2 separate regions of the Homo sapiens genome follow, and region 1 is linked to region 2. Evidence: fine-mapped expression QTL. Tissue or cell type: lung. Region 2 holds a variant in brackets; the other region holds the start of a gene. Each region is shown on its reference strand, or each on the opposite one.

Region 1 (2,863 bases), not on the chromosome of region 2:
CTGCACTCCAGCATGGGTGACAGAGCAACACCTTGTCTCAAAACAAACTATCTATCTATCTATCTATCTATCTATCTATCTGTCTATCTATCTGTCCTTTACCCAGACTGAGGGCAAGGGTAGGGGGATTTTCCTTATACCTTTTTTTTTTTTTTTTTTTTTTTTTTTTTTTGAGACAAAGTCTTGCTCTGTCGCCCAGGCTGGAGTGCAGTGGTGCTATCGTGGCTCACTGCAACCTCTGCCTCCTGGGTTCAAGCAATTCTCCTGTCTCAGCCTCTCGAGTAGCTGGGATTACAGGTGCCCGCCACCACACCCGGCTAATTTTTGTATTTTTAGTGGAGACGGGGGTTTCACCATGTTGGCCAGGCTGGTCTCGAACTCCTGACCTCAAGTGATCCGCCCGCCTCGGCCTCCCAAAGTGCTGGGATTACAGGCGTGAGCCACTGCTCCTGGCCGATTTTCCTCATACATTTTAACAGACATGGAACCATCTATCAGAACTTCTGAACTATTACTAATACAATCCCAGCCCAAGTTAAAAAAATAAATAAAACAACTTGACATCGTAGTAACTCGTTCAGTCTTATACCGCGTAATTTCCATTAGGATGTCCGATATACTAAAAATAGATCGGGGACTCCATTACTAATCTGAGGACCCCAAGATGGGAACCAGACCCGTTATTGCCCTCAACAGTTCACAGGTTAAGGGTCTCAGGAGGCAGTGGCTGAGCTGGTGTGAAAGGGAAGCAAAGAAAGTTCTATTCGTGGCCCTCCTCCCTTCAAGGCTCCCGTCGCCCCTTAGAGACCCTCTTTTCGCCTCAGGAACTCCCCTTCTCTTCCCATGAAACTTTCACTCTCTTGGCCGACCTCCCCGTCCCAATCTCAAGGAACCTCACTTCTTCCCTCACGGAATCCCGCGTCTCCTCGCAAAAACCCGCATCTCCACCACGGACCCTCCAAGTCTGCAGGGAACTCCCCAGCTCCCATGGAACCCTCGTCTCCTCCCGGAATCCCTTTTCCATTTTCAAAGAACCGCAATTCTTCCTTCACAGAACCTCCATCTCCTCACCCACCCCTCAGCTTCCCAAGGGAGCCCCCGACTCCCCCAGGGAGCCCCCACTCTTCTCCTCACTGACACCCCAGGCCCGCCCGGGCCGGGCCTCACCCCGCGGCTCCTCCACGGAGCGCCGGTGCAGCTCGCGGTAGCGCTGCAGCGAGGGGACGTGCGCGGAGCGGCTGACCTCGGGCGGCGGAGACCAACTCCGCGCCCGGCCTCCGGCTCCAGCTTCCTCCTGGCCCCGGCTCCCGCTGCCGCTCCGGACCCGCTCCTCAGGAAGCCCCATCACGTCAAGTTCCTAGAACCGCGGCCGCCTTTGCGGTCGCGGCGGGTGCCGGGACTGAGAAAACAGGCCGAACTAGAGGCGGGGCCTCCGTAGAGGGGCGGGGCCTGGTGAGTGGGGGAGTGGCTTAGTCTGGCGGGTGGGCGGTGCCAGAGGGGGCGGGGCCGTGTCTGGTTGGGGAGGGATCGAGGTTGGCAAGGACAGAAATACTATAAGGAAAAGTCGAGGGATAGGGGTGGAGCTGACTTGCCGGAAGGAGTGACGCCGTCGAGTGAAAGCAGAAGGGGCGGGGCCGGGTGTGACAAGGGAGAGGGTGGAACCGTGGAGTGCCAAGGGAGGGGCGGGGCCAGGCGGGACAGGAGAGGAGGTGGGCCCATGGAGTGATGGGGAGTAACCCGGCTGGTTGTGACAGGAGAGGAGGCAGAGCCATGGAGTGACCAGAGTGGGGTGGGGTCTTGGAGTGACAGATAAGGGGTTGGGTTAAGGCAAGGATCGAAAGGGAAAGGGATGGACTAAGGAGAGGAGTTGAGTAAGGTCCATCGCGGAGCCGCCCCGTGATCTGATTGCACAGTCCTGACTATCACCAGTTCCTTCCAGGTGACACCCTTCCCTCCAGGTCCCCCCTCTCTGAGCCACACCCACATTCTCGTCCTCCGGAAAAACTTCTCCCATGACCTTGAGGGCATGCTCTGGCGACAGCACCTCCTCTCTGCTCACCCTGGAACCAGCTCAGATTTTCTCCCTCTTATGAGGACATGTCTTCAATCTCCTTGCCTTCACAAATCTCCATCCAGATCTAAAGTACAAGACTCAATAAGTGAAGACTAGGAGACACCTTCAGGTTTTTTGTAATAAGCCCACCTCCTAATTGCACAAATGGCAAACCCAGGAAAGGGAAGGAACTGGTGCACAGTCAGAGAGCAAATAACGACCAAGTTAGGGCCAAAGCTAGGTTCTTTGACTCCAGATTTGGTTTTACTTCCTCGTCAGGCTTGAAGCTAAGGCTTGTAAAATATCAAAGTCTGTGCAAATAGGAAAAATCATTCACATTCTCTTTTTTTGTTGTTGTTTTTGTTTTGAGATGGAGTCTCTCGCTCTGTCGCCCAGGCTGGAGTGCAATGGCACAATCTCGGCTGACTGCAACCTCTGCCTCCTGGATTCAAGCAATTCTCCTGCCTCAGCCTCCCGAGTAGCTGGAATTACAGGTGCACACCACCACACCCAGCTAATTTTTGTATTTTTAGTAGAGATGGGATTTCACCATGTTGTCCAGGCTGGTCTTGAACTCCTGACCTCAGGTGATCTGCCCGCCTTGGGCTCCCAAAGTGCTAGGATTACAGGCGTGAGCCACCACACCTGGCCCACATTCTCTTCTTTCCTTCACAATCTCTTTACTCCACCAAGGGAAACCCCCACCACCACCACCACAACCTGGGCTTAATTACCTCTAGCTTCTCTCTAGCCCCTCCACCCCAGAAAGAAGTCAGGCAGGACCCTCCTCCATCTCTCACCTGCACTCAC
Region 2 (2,875 bases):
GAAAACCCCCTGGGTTCAAGTTCTGGCTCCACCATCTGGCGCCAGATCCAATCCTGGGTCCACTGTGGCTTCATCTCAGAGGAGGATAACAAAGAAAACACCGGGAATTGGCAATCCTATTAGCTTCCCCAGCACTAAGAGATCGGCCCAGAGCAGTGTCAAGCTTGTAATTTCACAAATGTGTGTGTAGAAAACAATTGCTATGTGCTGGGCATAATTCTAACCACTTGGTATGTATTAAATCATTAAATCCTCTAACCTGTCCTAGGAGACAGGTACTCTTTATTATCCCATTTTATAGATGAAGCAACCCTAAAAGTTTATGGTTATAAAGGTAGGAAGAGGTGAATTCAGGACCCAGACTCAGATAATGGGACTCCAGAGCTGGTCTTAACCACCATATCATAGAATAAGAGAAATACCAGCCTTTCATGAAAAACGAATTTGCAGGATCAGTCCACCCAGACAGTTGTGGCTGTGGAATCAGTACAACCATGCTGCCTGTCAGAAAGAAGAATGAAAAGATCATTTGACTGTCATTTCACTCATTCCATAAAAGTTAAACTGTAGTTCCATAGAACATCTGTGAGTCACAGTGTTGCCAGTCATGTAAATTGGGTGTCTCTGAATGTGTGTTTCACAATTGCTTCGATGGGAGACACAGACATGTCACAGCTCAGTAAGTTTCCAGGTAGAGCAATCAGTCATAACAATGGGAAATATTCCACAAAGCAGCAATTCTCATGACCTAGTGAGAAATTGTACATCTCTTCTCTTAAAATTAAAAAAACAAGCTGGGCACGGTGGCTCACACCTGTAATCCCAGCACTTTGGGAAGCTGAGGCGGGTACAACACCTGAGGTCAGGAGTTCGAGGCCAGCCTGGTCAACATGGCGAAACCCCATCTCTACTAAAAATACAAAAAATTAGCCAGGCATGATGGTAGGCACCTATAATCCCAGCTACTTGGGAGGCTGAGGCAGAAGAATCGCTTGAACCCAGGAGGCAGAGGTTGCAGTGAGCCGAGATCGCACCATTGCTCTCCAGCCTGGGCGACAGAGCAAGACTCTGTCTCAAAAAAATTAATTAATTAATTAATTAATTTAAAAAACAATGGTAAATAGTTAATGTTTTCCCCTTTTCAAAAGGCCTCCAAAGTTCTCATCTATGGGAATTTGTACGAGACCTGCTTCTATCTCCTGAAGAAAACTGTGGCATTCTGGAATGGGAAGATAGGGAACAAGGAATTTTTCGGGTGGTTAAATCGGAAGCCCTGGCAAAGATGTGGGGACAAAGGAAGAAAAATGACAGAATGACATATGAAAAGTTGAGCAGAGCCCTGAGGTAAGTTAATAGCATAAAATACTATGAGCCTTCAAGAAGAGTTATATACAATGGCTGGCTGTAGAAAATTACACTGTTTTTGCAGGTTTTTTACTTGATAATGGAAAGGTCATGAGACAAAACTTTGGTTCTTAGTTACAGGTAGGATTATGGTTTGTAAATTGACACGCTGTCCTTAGCATTCTTGGCAGCATTCCCCAGGGATCACTCTGAATCCAGGCCATCTCACACGCCCACACACACAAAGAAAAACACGTTTTGAGCTGAGAATGGTGA[G/A]GTTCAGTCTTCAAGATGTCTGGGAAAGGTTTAAGTGTAAGTTGATAACAGGGCATGAAAATACCAGGGTAACCAAAGACCAGCCTTGTCACCTGAGAGGAATGAGGAGACAGTGTTTGTGTTCTGTTGTTTTCCTAGGGTGCAAGCTCTCCCAGAATTTCTCTTCTGCTTGCTTTTTCAGATACTACTATAAAACAGGAATTTTGGAGCGGGTTGACCGAAGGTTAGTGTACAAATTTGGAAAAAATGCACACGGGTGGCAGGAAGACAAGCTATGATCTGCTCCAGGCATCAAGCTCATTTTATGGATTTCTGTCTTTTAAAACAATCAGATTGCAATAGACATTCGAAAGGCTTCATTTTCTTCTCTTTTTTTTTAACCTGCAAACATGCTGATAAAATTTCTCCACATCTCAGCTTACATTTGGATTCAGAGTTGTTGTCTATGGAGGGTGAGAGCAGAAACTCTTAAGAAATCCTTTCTTCTCCCTAAGGGGATGAGGGGATGATCTTTTGTGGTGTCTTGATCAAACTTTATTTTCCTAGAGTTGTGGAATGACAACAGCCCATGCCATTGATGCTGATCAGAGAAAAACTATTCAATTCTGCCATTAGAGACACATCCAATGCTCCCATCCCAAAGGTTCAAAAGTTTTCAAATAACTGTGGCAGCTCACCAAAGGTGGGGGAAAGCATGATTAGTTTGCAGGTTATGGTAGGAGAGGGTGAGATATAAGACATACATACTTTAGATTTTAAATTATTAAAGTCAAAAATCCATAGAAAAGTATCCCTTTTTTTTTTTTTGAGACGGGTTCTCACTATGTTGCCCAGGGCTGGTCTTGAACTCCTATGCTCAAGTGATCCTCCCACCTCAGCCTCCCAAAGTACTGTGATTACAAGCGTGAGCCACGGCACCTGGGCAGAAAAGTATCTTAATTAATGAAAGAGCTAAGCCATCAAGCTGGGACTTAATTGGATTTAACATAGGTTCACAGAAAGTTTCCTAACCAGAGCATCTTTTTGACCACTCAGCAAAACTTCCACAGACATCCTTCTGGACTTAAACACTTAACATTAACCACATTATTAATTGTTGCTGAGTTTATTCCCCCTTCTAACTGATGGCTGGCATCTGATATGCAGAGTTAGTCAACAGACACTGGCATCAATTACAAAATCACTGCTGTTTCTGTGATTCAAGCTGTCAACACAATAAAATCGAAATTCATTGATTCCATCTCAGGTCCAGATG

Evidence for each region. PIP is the estimated chance that this variant, and not a neighbour inherited with it, causes the effect. A credible set is the group of variants that fine-mapping cannot tell apart.
Region 1: ACSS2 starts here. The variant in region 2 is the best candidate, but not a certain one, in a credible set for the expression of ACSS2 in lung (TOPMed, PIP 0.84).

What each region holds. Positions count from the first base shown.
Region 1 is chr20:34,875,128-34,877,990 of GRCh38, reverse strand. ACSS2 (acyl-CoA synthetase short chain family member 2) reads right to left here and starts at 1,379. Exons shown (of 18, transcript NM_018677.4): 1 at 1,168-1,379. The coding sequence starts at 1,345. RefSeq lists silencers at 1,091-1,520, 1,601-1,740 and enhancers at 2,011-2,060, 2,081-2,160.
Region 2 is chr11:34,479,241-34,482,115 of GRCh38, reverse strand. ELF5 (E74 like ETS transcription factor 5) reads left to right here. Exons shown (of 7, transcript NM_001422.4): 6 at 1,149-1,344; 7 at 1,802-2,875. The coding sequence ends at 1,898. Among named protein-coding and RNA genes, the nearest start is that of ELF5, 33 kb to the left of the region's middle. The variant G/A (reference allele first, on the strand shown) is at 1,621.